3 linked regions of the Homo sapiens genome follow. The protein of the gene in region 3 purifies or fractionates together with the protein of the main gene of each other region. This does not show direct contact. Each region holds a gene or a part of one and is shown on either strand. Other genes may lie near its edges.

Evidence for each region.
Region 1: the proteins of INSL6 (region 3) and RNF123 purify together in Homo sapiens (co-immunoprecipitation; 3 studies listed by BioGRID and IntAct, with this or other methods). This does not show direct contact.
Region 2: the proteins of INSL6 (region 3) and UBAC1 purify together in Homo sapiens (co-immunoprecipitation; 3 studies listed by BioGRID and IntAct, with this or other methods). This does not show direct contact.

Annotation. Positions count from the first base shown.
Region 1 is NC_000003.12:49,699,090-49,706,908, forward strand, and holds part of RNF123 (E3 ubiquitin-protein ligase RNF123), read left to right. Parts: coding exon 1-16; intron 17-378; coding exon 379-493; intron 494-578; coding exon 579-683; intron 684-1,137; coding exon 1,138-1,263; intron 1,264-1,382; coding exon 1,383-1,475; intron 1,476-1,546; coding exon 1,547-1,620; intron 1,621-2,401; coding exon 2,402-2,519; intron 2,520-2,721; coding exon 2,722-2,821; intron 2,822-2,993; coding exon 2,994-3,055; intron 3,056-3,244; coding exon 3,245-3,316; intron 3,317-3,543; coding exon 3,544-3,664; intron 3,665-4,337; coding exon 4,338-4,439; intron 4,440-5,560; coding exon 5,561-5,667; intron 5,668-5,894; coding exon 5,895-6,093; exon of another isoform or gene 6,094-6,097; intron 6,098-6,444; coding exon 6,445-6,590; intron 6,591-6,892; coding exon 6,893-6,976; intron 6,977-7,701; coding exon 7,702-7,809; intron 7,810-7,819. UniProt on the Homo sapiens protein: Catalytic subunit of the KPC complex that acts as E3 ubiquitin-protein ligase. Promotes the ubiquitination and proteasome-mediated degradation of CDKN1B which is the cyclin-dependent kinase inhibitor at the G0-G1 transition of the cell cycle.
Region 2 is NC_000009.12:135,937,022-135,944,840, reverse strand, and holds part of UBAC1 (ubiquitin-associated domain-containing protein 1), read left to right. Parts: intron 1-5,081; coding exon 5,082-5,168; intron 5,169-6,480; coding exon 6,481-6,619; intron 6,620-7,819.
Region 3 is NC_000009.12:5,175,119-5,182,937, reverse strand, and holds part of INSL6 (insulin-like peptide INSL6 precursor), read left to right. Parts: intron 1-7,819. UniProt on the Homo sapiens protein: May have a role in sperm development and fertilization.

The sequences.
Region 1 (7,819 bases), on a different chromosome or scaffold from region 3:
GCAGCCGTCCTCTGCGATATCATTTTGTGAAGATGGCTGTGGGCTGCTCAGAAGCTCTTGGGGAGGCTGGGATGAGGGGCTCCCTACCCCAGGGGTGCCATGGGCTGGTGGCAGGCCCTGGCTGCTGCAGAGTTAGTGGGGGGCCATGTAGAGTGTCGAAGAAAACTTTCCTCGCAGCAGCCTGGTTGGTTGGGTGCCCTTGTCTCCACTGAACAGATGAGGAATGTGAAGCATCCTCCCTAGGGAGAATAAGTGGGCAAGTTGTGATGCAAACCAGCCCTGCCCTAGAGCCCAGGCCCCGGGGTGGGGGGTGGGCAGTGGAGAGGGAGTAGGCATGTCTGAGCCACAGATAAGGCGTTGCTGGCTTAACTCTGGCACCTACCCAGTGGCAGGCTACCGGCCCCTGCAGGACCCACCGAGTGCTGACCTGGTGCGGGCACAGAGGTTGCTGGGCTGCTTCCGGGCAGTGCTGAGTGTGGAGCTGGACCCTGTGGTGAGCTGGGGTCTGGGCCAGGCGGGGTGGGGGGCTTCCACAGCCTCCTGCCCCTCACACTTCTCCCTCCTCCCCCTCCACACAGGAGGGGCGGCTGTTGGACAAGGAGAGCTCCAAGTGGCGGTTGCGGGGCCAGCCCACCGTCCTCCTCACACTGGCCCACATCTTCCATCACTTTGCACCGCTTCTGGTGAGCGGCATTGGGAGGGGCATGGGAGGGGAGGAGACAGGCCATGCTAGACACGCCCGTGGTAGATGTGCCCTCACTGAGGGCTGCAGTGCTGAGGTCCCACAGCATCACCTGGCGAGGGCCCCATGTGACCAGGGCCCTCAGACCTCAGTCAGTCCCCTAGGGAAACAGGGACATTGCCAACCAAGGGCATCAGGGGATGTCCTGGAAAGAAGACTGAAGGATAATAACATCCCAGGCCAAGGAAACTGCGTGTGCCAAGCCTTAGAGGAGCCGTGGGGCAATGGCCTTCTTGTCCCTCAGTCAGACCCCGGAAGGGGTCATCTATGTTTGGTGTTGCTCGAGTGGCTCAAGGCTCTGTGCCTGAGGCTTGTGCCTTGGCCATGTGCCAGGGCAGGGGTGCCTTGACCAGAGTGGAAGGCCACCACCTCACCAGTGCCTGGCCTTGGTGCAGCGCAAGGTGTATCTGGTGGAGGCTGTGCTCATGAGCTTCTTGCTGGGCATCGTGGAGAAGGGCACACCCACACAGGCACAGTCCGTGGTGCACCAGGTCCTGGACCTCTTGTGGCTCTTCATGGAGGTGAGGCTCCTGACCTCAGGCCTCAGGCCTGGCTGTCAGTCTTCACTGGGGTCGGGAAGATACGGGGAGAATCTTGGAAAAGGCCCCAGTCATGGCTGCCTTGGCATCTCTTCCCCCAGGACTACGAGGTACAAGATTGCCTCAAGCAGTTGATGATGTCTCTGCTTCGGCTGTACCGATTCTCACCCATTGTCCCAGACCTGGGCCTACAGGTGGGAGCCCCTACCCCTGCCCTGAGCCCCCTGGGACTCGCCTGTCCACTCTGAACGCCCCCTCTCCACAGATCCATTACCTGCGGCTCACTATCGCCATCCTGAGGCATGAGAAGTCCCGCAAGTTTCTGCTTAGCAATGTCCTGTATCCTTTCCTTGCTGCCTGGCAGGCCAGACATGGGGTGCCCTCTGGACTCAGCAGAGGCCAGGAAGGGGAGTGTCATCAGGCCAGGGGTCCCCTGGGAGCATCAGGAGGACCAGAGCTGCCCAACGTGGCATTTTCTCTACAGAGCAAGGACGAGAGAGCAAAGGACTGAGCCTGGCCAGCCAGCCTAGCCAGGGGGTTCTGAATGACTGCAGACTCGGGCTACGCAGAGGTGTGGGAGGGGCCACAGGGCCTGCCCTCTTCGGCCACAGCCCAGCACTTTTGTTCATGTTCCACAGTGGGGATTCCTGCAAGATCTTTAAGGAGGCAGCTCTTCCTGCTTCCCAGAATTGTTGGGAACTGCATGAGTGAGTGAGAGCATAGCTTTGAGCCCCTGGCTGGGAAGCCTCAGCTTGTAGCCGTTTTCTTGGTCTGGGGTCTTCCAGCCTCCAGGAGGCAGACACAAAGCTGGGAGACACAGAGGTCAGAGTTGGGGCCTGAGAAAAGGCCACCAGTCCCTCTCTCCAGCTTGTCCCACAGTCATCTGTTCCTGTGACAAGCCCTTATCGTGCACCTGCTGGGTACTGGAGCTGGTGGGCTTAACCACCACAGCTTTTTGTCAGGGAGCATGCCCTGGGGGTCAGACACATAGCAGCAACATGCCCCTGTGGTGGTGGGAGAGCTGTGGTAGGCACATCCAGGGATGGGCTCCTGGGGAAGGACTCTTGAGGGTGTGCAGAGTGCCCTTTGGCAAGCAGAGCCCTGCCTTGACACCCGCCAGCTTCGACGTGCTCCGCTCCGTCGTCTTCTTTTACATCAAGAGCCCCCTGCGTGTGGAGGAGGCCGGCCTGCAGGAGCTCATTCCCACCACCTGGTGGCCCCACTGCTCCAGTAGGGAGGTGAGTGCACCCCAAGTGGGATGGGCAGAGGTCATGGCAAGGCCCCTGGCCTGGGCATCTGGCCACTGGGCATCTAGCATGAGGCCTTTTCACTGGCCCTGGTCCCTGAAGCCCTGGAGATGGAGTGTGGGTGTTCTGAGTGAAGGAGGCCTGGCTAGGTCCCAGGTGACCCTGCTGTATTCCACCTGCTACCCCTGCCTAGGGCAAAGAGAGCACGGAGATGAAGGAGGAGACCGCAGAGGAGCGGCTGCGGCGGCGAGCCTACGAACGGGGCTGTCAGCGGCTCAGGAAGCGCATCGAAGGTCAGCCCGCCTTGGGCACGGGGTAGGGTGGGAGGTGTGTGTGTGCACATGAGGGTGCTTGGAGGTGCCCATGTCTAGGTGGGACTTGGGGAACCCTGGTGGTGGAGCCCTGGCCCAAACCTGCCCCCCATCTCCTGGAGCCTGAGGGCCATGTTCCTCACCTGACCTCCAGTGGTGGAAGAACTACAGGTCCAGATCCTGAAGCTGCTGCTGGACAATAAAGATGACAATGGGGTGAGTGACTCCCAGGAGCCCTGGGTGGGGCCCTGTGGGGAGGGATGCTGCACTGGGCCTTAAGACCCAGAGGGTGGGAACTGGGTTTGGTTCCCATGGCAGGGGCTGGGGGAAGGTGCAGCACTGAGCCAGCCCAGTCTGGGCCTGCATTCTCAGCTCAGCACAGCCTCACTTTTCCCTCTCTCAAAGGGTGAAGCTTCTAGGTATATCTTCCTGACCAAGTTTCGCAAGTTTCTGCAGGAGAACGCCAGTGGCCGGGGGGTAGGTGTCCTCCAGGCCAGCCCACTGTGGATCCCCGGCTGCACTACACATGCCATGCCCTCAGCACCTGGCACTTCTCGGACTGCCTCATCCCTGCCTAGCCCCAAGCTTTTCTCTGCTGCTTTTCCCTCCCTGCTTAACCCTCGACCCTCAGGCAGGGCCTTGGATGAGGAATGGGCAAGGCACTGGACTGGCACCAATGCATGTTTCATGCCTGGTGTCCACAGAACATGCCCATGCTCTGCCCCCCTGAGTACATGGTCTGCTTCTTACACCGGCTGATCTCTGCCCTGCGCTACTATTGGGATGAATACAAGGCTTCCAATCCTCATGCTTCCTTCAGTGAGGGTGAGTGGCACCGGGGTCCCAGGTCAGTGAGGCTGGACAGAGCCAGGCGTAGGGCAGCCCCTAATGTTAGTGCAGAGTGCTGAGCTGAGGCTGTGGGCTGTGGGGAGTTGTCCCCGGCATCCTGCCTGGTTGAGTCCTACCCAGCCACAGGCGGCTTCTCCACTGGGGCAGCAGGAGCCCTGCACCGCAGGCCTGCCGATCCTGTGTTTGCTCTGATTGTCCCACGGGCTCCTACCATTGTGGGCTCTTTTCTTCCGTCCTTGCCCCCCCATTTCTCTGTGCGTCCTTTATAGGGCTGCCTTGGGTGGGTGCTGGGGGGCCCTGTGTTTGAGTCCCCAAGGGTCAGTGGGAGCCTTACCTGCCCTGGATTGGGGGATATCCCACAGGACTGGGGCTGGGCCTCTCTGCTTCTCCTGAGTGAACGGCTGCCATGAGTACCCCCATCACCCCAAGTTATGCAGCTGCTGGCTCTGACCTGAAATGGCAGGGGTGGAGAAGAGGTAGGGGAGGTCTGTTTCTTGGTCCAGGAGACAGTTTCTCTGTCTGCCTGGATGGGTGAGTGGCCAAAGCCAGAATTCCCAGGCTGTGCTAGGCCAGATTGGAGGGGAGGGCTGTGGGGAGGGTCTTCCTACTGGGCCGTGACCACTGGCCTAGCCTCCTCAATTCCTCGCAGAGGCCTACATCCCGCCCCAGGTCTTCTATAATGGCAAGGTGGACTACTTTGACCTGCAGCGCCTGGGGGGCCTCCTCTCGCACCTGCGGAAGACCCTCAAAGGTGTGTACAGGCCTGTGGGCCGGGAGCAGTTCTGGGGCCAGGTGGGGGACTGTCCCTGAGCCTGCTCTGCTGTGGATGCTGAGCCATCCTATGGCCACCAGAGGGTGCCCAAGTCTTTCCACCCACTCAGGCAGGGAGACACTGATCTGCCTGCCCTACATCTGGGCAGCTTCTCTTTCCCGCCAGCACCCACGCCATAGGGGTCGGGCGTGCCTGGCAGGGGACCAGGGATCTTGGTGAGGTGTGGATGGGGCGTGCAGGTGCTGCCGGAGCTGCCTTCAGGGATGAGCACAAGCTGCCCCGGTGCAGGGCTGAGGGCACAGCGAGAGCAAGGCCCTGAGCCGGGCACAAGGGTGGGTCTGTGCTGTCAGAACCTCTCTCTGGCTGCCGCAGTGTATACGCCGGAGTGCAGGGGCTGAGAGACAGGGAGCCCAGGTGTCCCCACACAGGAGATAAGGGCCTGCCCAGGTAGGTAGGGGAGGGCACAGGTGGAGGAGAGGAGTCAGGATGACCCCAGGCTTCCTGCCAGAGGTTGTGTGGATGGGGTGCCATCAGGGAGAGGGGCTGCAGGAGGTGGTGGAGATGAGAAATTCTGTTTGGACACAGCGCGTTTAGCGGGGAGCAAGGCCTGGGCGGGGGGCAGCGAAGGCGGGGTCAGTTGTCAGCACGGTGGTGGGGATGAGCCTGGGATGAGGCTTGGCTCCCACTGGGAGTGCCCAGAATGAAGCAGCCCTGGCATCTCCTTTTGTTTATGGAGTAGTCAGAGAGTGGGGGAGGCCCTGGAGAGCAGGAAGTCCTGGGAAACAAAGCCAGGGACCAGCAGGAAGGGCATGATGGGCTTACATCTATGTAGAATAAAGAAAGTCAATTTGAAAATAAATGAAAAAGAAGGGTGTGATGGGGAAGGCCTCCTGTTACTGAGTGGCAGCTAGACGGGGCCCTTGAGATGCAGAGTGAAGGCTGGGTGGAGGAGGCGGAGGGGCGAGGGGCAGATACGGTGCTAAACCGGGCTCTGCAAGGCCTCCTGCCCAGTGTGCTGGGCTCTCTCACCGTCCTGGGCACTTCCACTGTGGCCCCTTGCGCCACCACTGGCCTGAGAACCCTCCTGCTCTTCCTCCCAGATGACCTTGCTTCCAAAGCCAACATTGTGATCGACCCACTGGAGCTCCAGTCAACCGCCATGGATGACCTAGATGAGGATGAGGAGCCAGCCCCAGCTATGGCCCAGGTGCCGCAGTGGGGGCAGGCGGTGGGATTTGTGTTGGGCTTATCCTGTATCTTATGGGCAGGGGTCTCATCCAGGGCCACTTCCCGCTCCATGCAGGCAAAGGGTTTCTCACTGGGCTGGTGCCTTGCTGTGGGTGGAGGCATGGACCCTCCCTCACAATTCTGCAGCCCCGTGGGCCAAGGGAACCCTGAGCCAGCCCTGGTCCTGGCCGCCTTTCTTCACTGCAGCGCCCCATGCAGGCCCTGGCTGTTGGGGGGCCACTGCCCCTGCCCCGGCCCGGCTGGCTCAGTTCTCCAACTTTGGGCCGAGCCAACCGCTTCCTCAGCACAGCGGCTGTGAGCCTCATGACCCCACGGCGGCCTCTGAGCACCTCGGAGAAAGTGAAGGTCCGCACGCTGAGCGTGGAGCAGAGGACCCGTGAGGACAGTAGGTGCTTGGTGGGGTCAGGCAGGTCCCCGAAGGACCCTTCCACAGTGTACAGTCCCCGATCCGGGCAAAGCCAAAATACACCCCATGCCCTCCCAGCCCTGTGGCCTGGCAGCATCCCAGGAGTGCAGGAAGCACACTCCGAGGGCAGGAGATCAATGCCGCAGAAATAGGTCCTGGCACCGCAGGCCTTGCCCTGCACTCCACCCCTACCCCCATGCCCCCATGGGCTCCCCGCGGGTCCCTCCTTGGGCACAGGAATGGGAGAGATGATTTCCTCTCCTGCTGTGAGGCAGGCTCAGGAGAGCCGGGATGGCCCTACCCTTGACCCTTCCCTCCCCAACTCCCCAGTTGAAGGCAGCCACTGGAATGAGGGCTTGCTGCTGGGGCGGCCCCCCGAGGAGCCTGAGCAGCCCCTCACCGAGAACTCGCTGCTGGAAGTCCTGGATGGGGCGGTCATGATGTACAACCTCAGCGTACACCAGCAGCTGGGCAAGGTCGTGCACTCTTGGACCCCGCATTGGGTGGCGGGTGTTGTGCGTGTTTGGTTGTGTGTGTATTCCTGTGTGCACATGGGCCCGCAGGGCTGCCTGTTCAAGACCGTGCATGGGAGCACATGCCTCAGCGAGGCTGGTTTCTGCTCCTGCTGCCTCAGTCTGACCTGCTGACTGTTGTGGGAATGGGACCGCCCTGGGCCTAAGGTTGGGACCTTGGCAGGGCTGGGGTCCAGACTGGGTCTGAAGAAGCCTGGATGAAGTGCCCAAGGGGCACTCTGGACATGTGGTCCCATGCTGTGTAGATGGTGGGTGTCTCCGATGATGTCAATGAATACGCTATGGCTCTGAGGGACACAGAGGACAAGCTCCGCCGGTGCCCCAAGAGGGTAAGGCCCACATAGTCTTGGTGAGGGGCAGCTTGCTTACTCGTACAGGTAACCACAGATGAAGTCTGGTTCTGGGGGCTGCCCTGGCAGTTCTCATCCCCACTCTAGCCCTGGCCATAGCACGCCAGTGAGAGTGGGGCTGGCAGCAAGGCCTGGCACCCATCACCAGTGTGGCCTGTGCCTAGGTGCCCCCCACCCCCTGGGCCCAATAAGTGCTGAAGCACACCCACTCTCCTCATCAATTATTCATTGACCCTGAGTGCTTCCTCGGCCACTTGCAGAGTCAGCAGGAAGCAGGGCCTGGCTCCACTGCACCCTCCGGAGCCCTCTGCTGTAGCTGCCCTAGCCCAGGAAGGTGGGGCCCAGTGTGTCCAGGCTGAGCTTCCCTGACAGCCCCCACCCACCCCGACCTGTCAGCAGATCCCTGGGTCTGGCAGCTGGGGGAGCAGCGGTTCTGGCATCAGGTCCCTGGGTGCTCTGGCCAGCGGCTCACAGACCCCCAGCTGGGCCTCACTTCCATGTCATGAGGGGACCACCATGGCCTTGTTCTGAGGCTGGCTCAGGGTCACCAGAGGGTCAGTGGCAGAAGAAGGTTTTGAAAAATGGAGCCCAATCCCTTGCCTGCTCCAGGCACTAGAGGGCCCTTCCTAGGCTGCCTGCAGGATCAGGGTGGACCTGGGTATGGGGCCATGTCTTGATTGTCCTCCTTTCCCCTTGGGTGGCAGAGGAAGGACATCCTTGCAGAGTTGACCAAGAGCCAGAAGGTTTTCTCAGAAAAGCTGGACCACCTGAGCCGCCGTCTTGCCTGGGTCCATGCCACTGTCTACTCCCAGGTGTGCTGGT
Region 2 (7,819 bases), about 130 Mb from region 3:
TGGGGACCGTGGCCCGAGTTTCTGAGCACACCTGTAAGTTATCCTGGCTTGAATCCAGGCGCCCCAGTTTCCTCTGTGTTGCCACATTCGTCACCTTTTGAAAAACTTGATATTTTACAGTTCCTTCTGACCACTCATCCACAAGCCCCCCCTGTTCGGCAGCCTCTCTGCGGGGTGGGGGCCCTGCCCAGAGACCGGGAGGGTCATTTGCCGTCGGGGGTGTCCATGAGCGAGGGGCCGCTCAGGCTGCCAGCCGCCTCCATGGCACAGTCTGCAGGGCTGAAGGGTCCCTGCGCCTGTGTGTGTGGACCTTCCTCGCCCGCGCCTCATCTCCCCATTCTTCCTTCTCTCTCCTGTTCTTTGATTCGGGTTTTACTTCCTCCTTGGAGGTTTCTGTCTGTCTCCGACATGCTCAGATGGCAGATCTGCTCCATCTGCATGCTGTCGTCTCGTGTGGCACTGATCGTTTCCTTGGGGTGTGTGACATTGTGCTGTGGCCTCACCTGCGGAGCTCGTGTTTTCCATGGAGTTCCATGTGGCCAGGCTGTAGACATCCACCTGGGGTGATTCTGAGTTTGCTTCTGCTGGTGATGAGTGGGGCCCCTGCCCCACCATGTCCCGCAGTGTAACCCCCGGCTTCGCAGCTCAGGTCTTCCCTGCACAGGGTTCCGTGGAGACAAATGCTTTTCTTTGTTTCTTTTAAAATTTAATTTAATGTTAAGTTCTGGGATACATATGCAGGATGTGCAGGTTTGTTACATAGGTAAACATGTGCCATGGTGGTTTGCTGCACGTGTCAGCCCATCACCTAGGTATGAAGCCCAGCATGCACTAGCTATTTTTCATGATGCTCTCCCTCCCCCAGACCCCCTGATGGGCCCCGGTGTGTGATGTTCCCCTCACTGTGTCCATGTGTTCTCATTTTTCAGCTCCCACTTATAAGTGAGAACATGAGGGGCTTGGTTTTTTGTTCCTGTGTTAGTTTGCTGAGGACAGTGGCTTCCAGCTTCATCCATGACCCTGCAAAGGACGTGATCTCGTTCCTTTTTATGGCTGCATAGTATTCCATGGTGTATATATCCCACATTTTCTTTATTCAGTCTATCCGGTTTCTTTTCTTATCCGTGGGCATTTGAGTTGATTCTATGTCTTTGCTATTGTGAGTAGTGCTGCAGTGAACATACGTGTGCACATATCTTTATAACAGAATGATTTCTATTCCTTTGGGTATATACCCAGTAATGGAATTGCAGGGACAAATGGTATTTCTGTTTCTAGGTCTTTGAGGAATCACCACATGTCTTCCACAGTGGTTGAACTAATTTACATTCCCACCAGCAATGTAAAAGCGTTCCTATTTCTCCACAGCCTCACCAGCAGCTGTTGTTTCTTGACTTTTTAATAATCATCATTCTGATTGGCATGAGATGGTATCTCATTGTGGTTTTGATTTGCATTTCTCTAATGATCAGTGATGTTGAGCCTTGCTCTGTCGCCCAGGCTGGATTCTTCCTGCCTCAGCCTCCTGAGTAGCTGGGACTACAGGCACACACCCACCACGCCCAGCTAATTTTTGTACTTTTAGTGGAGACAGGGTTTCACCATGTTGGCCAGGCTCGTCTCAAACTCCTGACCTCAAGCGATCTGCCCGCCTCGGCCTCCCAAAGTGCTGGGATTACAGGTGTGAGACACTGCGCCCGGCCAACTGTCTTCTTTTGAGAAGAGTCTGATCATGTCCTTTGCCCACTTTTTAATGGGGTTGTTTTTTTCTTGTAAATTTGTTTATTCCATGTAGATTCTGGATATTAGACCTTTGTCAGGTGAATAGATTGCAAAAACGTTCCCTTCTGTAGGTTGTCTGTTCACTCTGAGGGTAGTTTCTTTTGCTGTGCAGAAGCTCTTTAGTTAGATCCCATTGAGACAAATGCTTTTCTAGTCTATTTTCTCATCTTTTCAGGGTCCTGTTTTAAGTAAGGGTCTCAGTTCCCACTCCCTACCTCCCATGGGCCCAAGGCGCACGTTCTGTCTGTGTGTAGACATCAGACCCCGCCCTCCCAGGGCAGCCCCTGCGCACACCCTCTCCCAGGGCTAGCTTTCTGTCTCTTCCTTCTTGGGTTTCTCACTTGTGGATATCCCTTTCTTGTGAGGTTAGCTCTGCATGTAAAAGTTTCTCTTTTTTTTTTTTTTTTTGAGACAGTTTCACTCTGTCACCCAGGCTGGAGTGGCGGTGGCACAATCATGGCTCACTGCAGCCTTGACCTCCTGGGCTCAAATGATGCTACTTCAGCCTCCTGAGTAGCTCTTACAGGCACGCACCACCACACAGGGCTAATTTTTTATTTTTTAAAATTTTGTACAGATAGGGATCTCCCTGTGTTGCCCAGGCTGGTGTTGAACTCCTGGCCTCAAGTGATCCTCCTGCCTTGGCCTCCCAAAGCGCTGGAATTACAGGCATGAGCCATTGTGCCTAACCTAAAAGCATTTTTGTTTTATTTTCATCTAGCATTTCTAGGTTTAGCAGGAAGTTTGTCTCGTTGTGCTTGTCTCCTAGGGAGCCAAGTTTACATCTGATCCTGGAAGCCTGTCCAAGTGGAGCAGTCACTCTCCAGCTGGGTCCCTTGTGCTCTGAGGTTGGACTTCGCACTCTCGTGTGTTGTGGTCCTGCACGGTCTCTTGGAGGTTGTTAGTCATATACTTTCTTGCCATCTTAAGCCTTTTTGTTAAATATGGATGCTCATTCTTAACAATCTTAACGTGCTCGTTTTCCTAAGATCTTCCCCATTGCCATTCCCTCCCGTCATCTCTCTGTGTCAGAACAACATTCCGTAGAATGTCTTCTTTGATGAAAATCATCACAAGGTGGTCAAGGCTTGAGGGGCCAGCCCATCAGTCCTCCTAGCCTTTGGTTTCTGTACAAGTCATGAGATCAGGCAGTCGTCCAGTAGGGATCGAGATACTAGCTTTGTTACTGAGAAAGGATTGGAGAGCTCTGACTTGAGGCCAAAACAGATTTCCTGCTGCCCCTCCCTTCCCAGTGGTAGACAGGATGCCTGCTGTCCGGGGGCAGAGCTGGCAGGGCCCGACGTCCTGCAGCCCGTGAGCGCAAGGCCCCTCTCCCATTGCCCACAAGCAAGTCTTTGCCCCCATGGGCTGGGAGGGAGGGCAGGGACTGCCAGGTGTTGCCTTGGGAGTACTGGGGCATCATTTCCTGGGCTGAGGTAGAAATGAGCGACAGTACTTCCTATTGAAGCTAGTGAGGAGGGCATCCTGTCCTTGAATTCAGTAGATTCCAGGCTATTCTGTATGACTTTGATATCAAAATATTGTGCGGTGGGTTCTTCCAGAGTTCATTGTTGGAGCTCCTGGATTAGGGTGTGGCTCAGGAAGGCAATTGTGATGGACCATAAATAGAAAATACAGAGTTTTTTCTTTTTTGAGATGGAGTCTCACTGTGTCGCCCAGGCTGGAGTACAGTGGTGCGATCTTGGCTCACTGCAACCTCCACTTCCCAGGTTCAAGCGATTCTCCTGCCTCAGGCTCCCGAGTAGCTGGGATTACAGGTGCCCGCCACCACGCCCAGCTACTTTTTGTATTTTTAGTAGAGATGGGGTTTTCCCATGTTGGCCAGGCTGGTCTCAAACTCCTGACCTCAAGTGATCCTCCCACCCCGGCCTCCCAAAGTGCTGGGATTACAGGCGTGAGCCACTGCTCCCGGCTGGGACTTTTGACCTGATCATGCACACAGTTTAGCTCTAGCCAGCATCCTTCCTGAGCTCCACCCCAGCTGAAGTCTTTTTCTGCCAGGTTCTCTTGGAAGCATCTGATGGTGCAGTCCAGACTGGCTGTGGACGTGCACCGTCCGCGGGGTGCAGTGCTGCATGAAGTCAGCCTGGGTGGTGCTGGGAGCTGTGTGGGGCTGGCACCCCTAGACCACCTTATGGTGGCCGGAAAACTGCCAAAGATGGAGAGGACTCTGGGGGCTTCAAGAGAGTGGGATCTGACCTTTCAGGGATTAGGAGAGGCCCTTGAAATTTTGATGAAGCCTTCATCTTACTTATTTATATTTTTTCAAAATGGACCCCTTTAAACATTGTGGTATAAATCTCCAGAGTAGAGGATGTATTATCTTGTTACATGAATTGTGTCCAGAAAATGTATGTCCTTCCCCAAAAACGAATTAGCATATGTTCAGTTGTAGCTTAAGTTTTGTTCAATATTAAAAGTTAAAAAATTAGTTTTAGGATTTTTTTTTTTTTTTTTTGAGATGGAGTCTCGCTCTGTCGCCCAGGCTGCAGTGCAGTGGCGCGATCTTGGCTCACTGCAAGCTCCGCCTTCCAGGTTCATGCCATTCTCCTGCCTCAGCCTCCCGAGTAGCTGGGACTACAGGCGCCTGCCACCACGCCCAGCTAATTTTTTTGTATTTTTAGTAGAGACGGGGTTTCACCGTGTTAGCCAAGATGGTCTTGATCTCCTGACCTGGTGATCCGCCTGCCTCGGCCTCCCAAAGTGCTGGGATTACAGGTGTGAGCCACCGCGCCCGGCCCTAGGATTTTTTTTTTTCTAAGATAAAATCTGAATAAAACCTTTTTTCACAGGTTACAATGGCATTTTTGTTTCCGTTGAGATTGCACTTACTGACGTGGCCTTTCCCTAATGCCACTTCTCTTTGGGTAACAAGGCCCTCTGGGGTAAACCTGCGGTGGCTGCCGAGACAGTCTTATCCACACAGTCATCGGGACAAACCTGAAAGGGTCTGAAGTTGGCCTGACTGCCTCGTGTCCACATAAGCGATGCGTTTCTACCTGTCACAACCTGTGGCTCCCTGAAGACAAGCCTGGGAGCTGCACTGCCCCCCGGCTCTGCTAACTACAGTCATCCCTGCACTTCCTCGGCTTTAGGATGCTGAAAACCAAGATCTGTTTTAGCAGAGCTGTGAGGAAAGAACGTGGACGGACAGCGTCCTCAGTGCTGTTGGGAGCACCCTCCGCTAGGGTGCGGGGAGCGGGCCCCTCTGCACGCAGGTCACTGGTTCCTCGGCCTCCTGCCGCCCCCAGCGAGCTAACGGCTGTGCTGTCCTCTAGGCCGTCATTTCCCTGATGGAGATGGGGTTCGACGAGAAAGAGGTGATAGATGCCCTCAGAGTGAACAACAACCAGCAGAATGCCGCGGTGAGTGTTGGGCTGTGGTGAGTGAGTGTGGGCTGTGGTGAGTGAGTGTGGGCTGTGGTAAGTGTGGGCTGTGGTGAGTGAGTGTGGGCTGTGGTGAGTGAGTGTGGGCTGTGGTGAGTGTGGGCTGTGGTGAGTGAGTGGGGGCTGTGATGAGTGAGTGTGGGCTGAGTGAGTGTGGGCTGTGGTGAGTGAGTGTGGGCTGTGAGTGTGGGCTGTGGTGAGTGAGTGTGTCAGGCTGGGCGAGTGCTGGGAGCCTCACTCGTGAGCGCCCCGGGCGTGGTGGAGGCCGTGTGTTTGCCTACTTTCACATGCAGCCGGCTATGTGGCTTTTAAAGTGAGACAATTGGATAGATGGCTCAAACAGTATAAAAATTTAAAAATACGGAATTCTAGGTTTTTAAAAGGGTGCCTTATATGTACATATTTTATGGATGGGTAATTTGTTCATTTTTTTTTTTTTTTAATTTTTTTGGAGTCAGGGTCTCACTCTGTCCCCCAGGCTGGAGTGCAGCGGTGTGATCACACTCACTGCAGCCTCGACCTCCTGGGCCCAAGCGATCCTCCTGCCTCAGCCTCCTGAGTAGCTGGGACCACAGGCATGCACCACTATGCCCGGCTAATTAGTTTTTTAGAGACAAGATCTCCCTTTGTTGCCCAGGCTGATCTTGAACTCCTGGCTTCAATCGATCCTCCTGCTTTGGCTTCCAAAGTGCTGGGATTACATGCATGAGCCACCACTCCCAGCCCATTTTTCTGATTAAACTGACTCAAGAATGATTCCCGTCCTGTGCCCGTGTGCCAGCTGGGCTGATGGAGCTGTGCCTGGGGAGGTCCCTGTGGTGGCCCACATCCCCCCCCCACCATCCCCCGTGCCAGTGGAGTTCGTGGCTCACACCTCCAAGACAGAGATGAGGAGCCTGTGTCCTCATGGCTCCAGCACTGCTGACTGCCCATAACAGGACCACAGGCAAGCTGGGCACTTGGTACATTTGTTAATCACCTTCCCAACACTCCTGGGTGGGCCACACTGGCCCAGGTAAGTGGGGAAGCGGCAGCAGTCAGTGATCCCTGCGACACCAGGGTCTGCAGAGAAAAGCGGACTAGCTCTTCCTTCTCTGGCCTGGTCTGACACGCACGGCAGTGAATCCAGACTGCGTTTGTCTTCACGGTAGAGTCCCTTCCAGGGAGATCAGCCCTGGGGGCTCAACAGGAACTCACAGAAAGGTGCAGGAGCTGTCATGCCTGCTGCTGGTGGCGTCTTGCGGAGGCACTGAAGGCGCTAACAGTGGTATTGGTGCTCTTGGCTTTGCAGTGCGAGTGGCTGCTGGGGGACCGGAAGCCCTCTCCGGAGGAGCTGGACAAGGGCATCGACCCCGACAGTCCTCTCTTTCAGGCCATCCTGGATAACCCGGTGGTGCAGCTGGGCCTGACCAACCCGAAAACATTGCTAGGTATGTGCGCCTTCTTTATGCTAAGTCTCGGGTCGGGGAGGCTGGCTGGTTCCCTTGCAGGACAAATAGGTGCTGCGGAGGCGATACGGAGGATCCAGCGCTGAGGATCGCCGTGCGCTGGCAGCACGTCCTGCCATGCAGGTTGGCATCCTGCGGGTGTAGTCCCGCTACGTCACTGTGGGGCCCGCAGGTCAGGTTCTGATCGTGGTGTGACTGTCTCCTGCGCGATGACCCTGACATAGGCCTCAGAAAACCAGTGCCAGTGGCTTTCCGAGGGCCAGCGGGGTGGAGACTGCGCCAGCAGCTTAGGAACTCACGGGAGGACAAGGTGTGGTTTGGGCTTTTGCTCTTACTACTCGTCAGGGTCTTCGATGGCAATGGTTTATTTTTATTGTGAGATACGTACATACAAAAGTGTATATGATGATGTAACTTTAAAGAAGAATAAAACTAATAGCCATGTATCTACTATTCAGCTTTGGGCCTGGGGTGCCCCTCCCCTATGCACCTCATCCCTCCCTCCGGTGTGGCCGTCGCCGTGGCCGCGGCTTACCTCTCTGCTTCCCGGTAGAGTTTTGCCGTATTTGTGTCTCCTTAAACAATCTCTCATTTGCTGCTGCCTTTGTGTAAGTAGAATCATGTTTTAAGCAGGCCTCTGTGACTGACTGCGTTCTTTGTGGGGGTTGTGGAGTATTTTCTTGATGGAAGGCACTGGGAACCCAGGGCTCGTTGGGTTGTCTACATGTGGTGCCACTCCTGATTTTTTTTTTTTTTTTTTTTTGAGACAGAGTCTCGCCTTGTCACCCAGGCTGGAGTGCAATGGCATGATCTCGGCCCACTGCAACCTCCGCCTCCCAGGTTCAAGCAATTCTCCTGCCTCAGCCTCCTGAGTACCTGGGATTACAGGCGTGCACTACCACGCCTGGCTAATTTTTCGTATTTTAGTAGAGACGGCTTTCACCATGTTTGCCAGGCTGGTCTCGAACTCCTGACCTCGTGATCCACCTGCCTCAGCCTCCCTAAGTGCTGGGATTACAGACCTGTTGGTCCCCAGGAGCTGAGTTCCTGGATGTTGGGAGGGCCTTTGCCACCCGAGCAGGCTGGAAGTGTCTCTGGAGCTGCGATGGCCGTGCCCTGATCTTGAAGGCTGGCCTTCTTTCAGAAGCGTATTGGCCGCCTGTAGAACCTTGGCTGTGAGAG
Region 3 (7,819 bases):
TTTTTCAAAGCTACTTATACATATCTTGAATCTGTAATTGTGTGCTTCTTGTTAATGGACCCTGAAGGTGGAGGCAGTATCTCCAAGACCTACCCCGTAATGTGGCACCATGAAGTTGACATCATATTTCTAAATTACGACTGAGTATTGTGCTTCCGAGATATTAGTGCCAGGTGAAATCATTAATGTTTCAAAATCAGCTTTTCATAATCTGTAACCCCTATTCCAGTTAGATTAATCATATTCCCATATTCTTAGTCTTCATGTCACATATTCTTGTTTTTTTTGTTTCTTTATGTTTCAGATATCATCACAACTAGTCTGTAAAGGGCCCTTCTCTTTATATATTAGTTCAACAAAATTTGAGTACCTATCATGTGTTAGGCACTCTTCTTGGTGATTGGGATGTTAGAGTAAACGGTGAAGGCTCCTACCCTCATGAAGCCTACAGAATAGTAAAGATAGACAATTAACATAAGTAAATTATAATTTACAGAAGGTGATTATCCTCACTTAGCCCCTTTCTCCACTCCCATTCTCCTCCTCTCCTTGGCAATTGTTGTAATGTGTTTATTATATATTTTTTGTTTTTATAAGTTTTTGCAAATTATGCATTCTTTCCTGTTCATATGTTTTAAGATATATCTAAAAGGCATTTAAGATCTATATCTTATTGTTGCTATGTGAACATTTAGTCCATTGCTTCTAACTACTGCATAATACTCATGTGCATTCCTCACATTTTACTGATTTATTCAGTTTTGAACACCTAACCTATGTAGCCTTGAACTCCCTACCACTACAGATAACACTGCCATGAACATCATTGTATGTGTCCCCTTATGAACCTAGAAGTGTTTCTGGGATACACATCTAGAGTGGAATTGCTGTGTCATGAAGTATGTGTATGTTTAATTTGCCTGAGGAGTATCAGATTGCTCTTCAGAGTGACTACACCAATGTATAGTTGCACCACCAATCCTGTGTCCTCATATCTATGTCAACAATTAGCATTATACAGTTATTAACTTTTACCAGTGTAATAGATGTAAAATGACACTATATTTCTATTTTAACTTGCTCTGGGTCTGAACATCTTTTCATATACATGTTAACCTTTTGGATTTTCTCTTAAAATTTCCTGTTTATATATTTTGCCCAATTCTTGTTGGAATTGTTATCATTTTCCAGTTGGTTTATAGGAGTTAATCAAATCTAGATACAGTAACAACTAGTTGTTGGTTTTAGATGTCACAAATATGTTCTCCCATTTTGACATCTGTCTATTGCTGTTGCTTGACAGAAAGCCTTAACTTTTATATAATTAAGCAGTAAGTGTTTTGCCTTATGTATTAGAGGTCCTTTTCTGTCCTTCTGTTAACTTTTCAGTTTTACTTTTCACATTAAGTCCTTAATTATTAGGCTAATTTTTAGTTCTGGTCTCGGTAGGAATATTACCTCACTTTCTCAGTAAGTCTTTTTTTCTCTACATAGGGAGCTAGTTTTCTGAACACTTTCTACTAATCAATTATTTTTCTCACTAATTTGTGGGATAACCATTACTGATAAGTTTGAGCTTTCTATTTTATTTAATTGGTCATTTATTTGGCCTTTTATCGTTACTATTTTTGATACTGTGACTCTATAGGATGTCATTTATCTGGCAGGACAAGTCTTCAATGTTTATTTTTTCCCTTAGGATTGACTAACCTAAATCTTCAACCTTTATTCTTTCATATATATTTAAAAGTATGCTTATTGAATTTCTTTTTTAAAAGTCCACATGGAATTTTATTTGGGATGCGTGGAATATTATCAGGGGAACCCGCCCCCAATATTTCAATGTAGGTTCTATTTTCCATAAGTGTCCGCTGGCTGAGAAATAAAGAGTACAAAGAAAGGAATTTTACAGCTGGGCCGCCGGGGGTGACAGCACATATCAGTAGGACTCTAATGCTGGCCTGAGCCTCAAACCATCAAGTTTTTTGTTAAGAGTTTCAAAAGGGGAGGGGGTGTAAGAACAGGGAGTAGATCACATGCTTCAAAGTGCAAAGAGCAGAACTACTAATAAGGGTCTAACAAAGATGACATGCTTCTGAGGGAACAGGACAAATGGCAAAAGCAGAACTACTGATAAGGGTCCAATAAAGATCACAAGGGAAAGGGCAAAAGCAGAACTACTGATAAAGGTTTATGTTCAGTGGTGCATGTATTGTCTTGATAAACATCTTAAATAACAGAAAACAGGGTTTGAGAGCAGAGAACCAGTCTGACCACAAATTTACCAGGGTGGAGTTTTTCCCCACCCTAGTAAGCCTGAGGGTACTGCAGGAGACCAGGGCGTATATCAGTCCTTATGTCAACGACATAAGACAGACATTCCCGAAGCGGCTGTTTATAGACCTCCCTCCAGTAGTACATTCCTTTCCCAGGGTATTAATACTAATATTCCTTGCTAGGAAAAAGAATTTAGTGATATCTTCCCTACTTGCACATCCGTTTATAGCCTCTCTGCAAGAAGAAAAATATGGCTCTTTTTGCCCAACCCCGCAGGCAGTCAGACCTTACAGTTGTCTTCCCTTGTTCCCTAAAAATTGCTGTTATTCTGTTCTTTTTCAAGGTGCACTGATTTCATATTGTTCAAACACACGTTTTACAATCAATTTGTACAGTTAACACAATTATCACAGTGGTCCTGAGGTGACATACATCCTCAGCTTACGAAGATAACAGGATTAAGAGAGTAAAGACAGGCATAAGAAATTATAAAAGTATTATTTGGGAACTGATAAATGTCCATATTAAAATGAAATCTTCACAATTTATGTTCCTCTGCCATGGCTCCAGCCGGTCCCTCCGTTCAGGGTCCCTGACTTCCCACAACAGAATATATACACTAATTTGAAGAGGATTGACTTCTTTTTTTTGCTTCACCTTCTAAGTTCAGGAGTACATGTGCAGGATGTGCAGGTTTGTTACATAGATAAATGTGTGTCATGGTGGTTTGCTGCACAGATCATCCTATCACCTATGTATTAATCCCAGCATCCATTAGCTATTCCTCCTGATACTTTCCCTTCCCCCAGGGCCCCTGTCAGGCAGGCCCCAGTGTGTGTTTTCCCCTGCATGTGTCCATGTGTTCTCATCGTTCAGTTCACACTTACAAGTGAGAACATGTGGTGTTTGGTTTCTGTTCCTGCATTAGTTTGCTGAGAATGATGGTTTCCAACTCCATCCATGTCCCTGCAAAGGACATGATCTCATTCTTTTTTATAGCTGCATAGTATTCCATGGTGTATGTGTAGCAAGTTTTCTATATCCAGTTTATCATTGGTGGGCATTTAGGTTGATTCCATGTCTTTGCTATTGTGAATAGTGCTGCAATGAACATATGCTTGCATGTATCTTTATAACAGAATGATTTACATTCCTTTGGGTATACACCCAGTAATGGATTGCTGGGTCAAATGGTATTTCTGCCTCTAGGTCTTTGAGAAATCACCACACTGTCTTCCACAATGGTTGAACCCTACCAACAGTGTAAAAGTGTTCCTTTTTCTCCACAACCTTGCCAGCATCTGTTGTTTTTTAGCTTTAATAATAGCCATTCTGACTGGCATGAGATGGTATCTCATTGTAATCTTGATTTGCATTTCTCTAATGATCAGTGATGTTGAGCTATTTTTTGTTTGTTGGCCACATATATGTCTTCTTTTGAGAACTCTCTGTTCATGTCTTTTGCCCACTTTTTAATGGGGTTGTTTTTTTCTTGTAAATTTGTTTAAGTTACTTATAGATGCTGGATATTAGAGCTTTGTCAGATGGATAGATTGCAGAAATTTTCTCCCATTCTGTAGGTTGTCTGTTCACTCTCATGATTTTTTTTTTTTTTTGCTGTGCAGAAGCCCTTTAGTTTAATTAAATCCCGTTTGTCAGTTTTTGATTTTGTTGCAATTGCTTTTGGTGTTTTTGTTTTGAAATATTTGCCTGTGCCTGTGTCTTGAATGCTATTGCCTAGATTTTCTTCTAAGGTTTTTATGGTTTTGGGTTTTACATAAGTCTTTAATCCATCTTGAGTTAATTTTTGTGTAGAGTGTAAGGAAGGGGTCCAGTTTCAATTTTGAGCCTACAGCTAGCCAATTCTTCCAGCACCATTTAATAAATAGAGAATTCTTCCCTCATTGCTTGTTTTTGTCAGGTTTGTCCAAGATCGTATGGTTGTAGGTGTGTGGTGTGTGGTTTTATTTGAGTTCTCTATTCTGTTCCATTGGTCTATGTATCTGTTCTTGTACCAGTACCAAGCTGTTGTGGTTACTGTAGCCTTGTAGTATAGTTTGAAGTTGGGTAGTGTGATGTAGGAAACCACAGAGATGGTGGCTGCCCCTCCCCACAGGAACTTTGTTCCAGAGTGAGATCAGAGCTCTGTCTGTATAACTCTGGCTGGAGTGGCTGAAGCCTCCACATGGAGGTCCTGCCCAGTGAAGAGTAATGGATCAGTGTCCTGCTTAAAGAAGCAGTCTGGCCACAATCTGCCAAAGCAGCTGTACTGCCTTCTGGGGAACCCTTTCTCATGCCAACCAGCAAGCTGGAACAGCTGAGTAAAGGGAACCGTGGAGATGGCGGCAGCCCCTCCTCCCTAGGAGCTCAGTCCTAGGGAGAGATCACAGCTCTGTCCCTGTAACCCTGGCTGGAGTGGCTGAAGCCCCTACAAGGAGGTCTCACCCAGGGAGGAGGAATGGATTGGGGTCCCACTTAAAGCAGCAGTCTGAGCGTGGTGGCTCATGCCTGGAATCCTGGCACTTTGGGAGGCCAAGGCGGGTGGATCACTTGACATCAGGAGTTCAAGACCAGCTTGGGCAACATGGCAAACCCTGTCTCTACTAAAAATACAAAAATTAGCTAGGCATGGTGGCATGTGCCTGTAATCCCAGCTACTTGGGAGGCTGAGGCGGGAGAATCGCTTGAACCTGGGAGGTGGAGGTTACAGTGAGCCAAGATCACGCCACTGTACTCCAGCCTGGGTGACAGAGCGAGACTCCAACTCAAAAAAGAAAAAGAAGAAAAAGAAAGAAGCAGTCTGGCCACAGTCTGGCACAGCAGCTGTGCTGTGTTGTGGGGTACCTTCCTCCTCTGGACTGTTTGGATTCTCCAAAGCTGGGAGGCTGGAACAGCTGAGTTGACCTTTCCCAGAGATGGCGGCTGCCCCTCCTCCCAGGAACTCTGTCCCGTTTCAGGTGGACTCCAGCTTTTGCTTTGGGTGGCTGGAATTCCAAATCAGGTCTTAATTTGTGAGGTGCTGTGGAAGTGGGACGTGCAGAACAACTGCTTGGCTCCCTGGATTCAGCCCCCTTCCTTGGGATATGCACTGTCATATCTTCTGCCTTGCCAGGATCCCAGGGCCAGAATCTGTAAAACTCCTGGGCCTCATTGTGTGCCTGAGCGTTTGCTCTGCTGAGACTCCACACAGCTCTGTGTGTCGAACCCAAGGCCCTAGTGGCATGGGCTCACAATGGGATCTCCTGATCTGCAAAGATCTGGGATCAAAGATGGGATTTCCTGATCTGGGTTTCAGAGATCTCTGGGAGAAATGTGATTTCCCGGGCGGGGTGGCACAATCACTCACCACTTTCCTTGGCTGAGGGTGAGTTTCCTTTGGCTCCCTGCTGTTCCTTGGTAGGCCATTCATTGCTCCACCCTGCATTTCTTCTTTCTCTCTGGATCAAGTTGTTTGCCTAGTCAGTCCCAATGTGAGAACCTGGATATTTCAGTTGAAGGTGCTGAATTCACTCTTTTATTCCTCTCCCTGAGCGCCATGGATCACAGCTGCATCTAATTGGCCATCTTGTGCACCCAACTCCCCCCGACCCCATTGACCTCTTTATTACATAAAGTCATCCTAATCAAAGTCATGAAATTACTTATATTCTATTCTTATGATTTTAAAGTTTTCTTTATGGAAACTTTTACAGTATCATTGGTTAATTTCATGCTTAATACTTTTTTTTCTTTAGCTATTGTAAATACCTGTGAATTATATTTACTAGTTAGTGACTTGGCTAGAGAAATGCAACTTATTTTTATAGGTTGATCTTTATCCAGCAACCATGCTGAACTATCTTCATAGTTCTAATAGTTTGTTGATTCTATAGGTTTTTTATCACTTGAAAATGATAGTTATATCACTTTCTTGCTAAACTTATACCATTTTTTTTTTTTTTGCTTTGATTTCTTGTTTTGTTCCCAGGCTTAAAGGGCACGCATTTAAATATCTCCATTAGGTATGATGTTTGTAGGTTTATGCTATATAATCTTCATTAAGGTAAGGAAGCTTGCTAAGAGATTTTTTTTTAATCATCGTAAATAGGGCTGAACTTTATTAAGGTCTTCTTTTCGCATACTTTTGCTTAGTCTTATGATTTTTTCTTTTATTAAGCAAATACTCATTGGGTACCTACTAAGCATCCAGGCACAATTTTAGAATCTTGGGAATATGTCAGTGGACAAAACAGACAAAGATCAAAGGCTTTATGGAGCTTTATTAAGTAAATATTTGAAAGTAGTAAGAGCTACAGAAAAATGAAAAATGAAACAGGATAAGGGAGATAAACAGAGCAAGGAGTTGAAAGGTGGGGTATAGTATTAAACAGTGTGGTAAGGGTAGACCAATTATTGAAAAGGTGAGATTTAAAAAGAAGTGGTAAGGGAATTATCCAAGTGGATATGTGGAGAAAGGGCATTTATGCAGAGGAAATAGTGGAGCAGAGGCCCTTCTGCCTGATGTATACAGGGAGTAGCAAAGAGTCCAAATGTGGTTGGAGCAGAGAAAATGAGGAAAGTAGTAGAAGATAAGGTAGGAGAGGTAATAGGCAGACATGATAAAATAGGGTATTTTAGGCCAGTAATCCCCAACCTTTTTGGTACCAGGGACCAGTTTCATGGAAGACAATTTTTCCTTGGACCAGGGAGGGGAATGATTTTCAGATGATCCAAGCGCATTACGTTTATTGTGAACTTTATTTCTATTACTATTACATGGTAATGTTTAATGAAATAATTATACAATTTACCATAATGTAGAATCAGTGGGAGCCCTGAGCTTGTTTTCCTGAAACCAGATGGTCCCATCTGGGGGTGATGGGAGACAGTGATAGATAATCAGGCATTAGATTCTCATAAGGAGCGTGCAACCTAGATCCCTGGCATGCGCAGTTCACAATAGGGTTCACACTCCTATAAGAATCTAATGCTGTCCCTGATCTGACAGGAGGTAGAGCTCAGGTGATAATGCGAGCAATGGGGAGCAGCTGTAAATATAGATGAAGCTTTGCTCGCTCGCCTGCCCACTGCTTACCTCCTGCCATGTGGCCTGGTTCCTAACAGGCCATAGACCAGTTAAGTCCCCAGTGGTTGGGGACCCCCTGTTTTAGATCATTTTAAAGACTTTGTTTTGGGGTGATGCAAGGAGTCATTAAGATTTTTGAGCAGAGAAGTGACATAATTGACATTTTAAATGGATCACTCTGGCTACTGTGTTGAGAATAGACTGTAGAAAGGCAAGAGTAGAAACAGAGAGACCTGTTAGGGAGGGTCTTAGATGAGGATGATAGAAGTGAAGATAGTGAAAACTGTTAAATTCTAGTTATACACGGGCCATATTTGATGTGAGATATGAGGAAGAGAAATCAAGAATGACTCCATGGCCAGACGCGGTGGCTCATGCCTGTAATCCCAGCACTTTGGGAGGCCGAGGCAGGTGGATCATGAGGTCAGGAGATCGAGACCATCCTGGCTAACACGTTGAAACCCCATCTCTACTAAA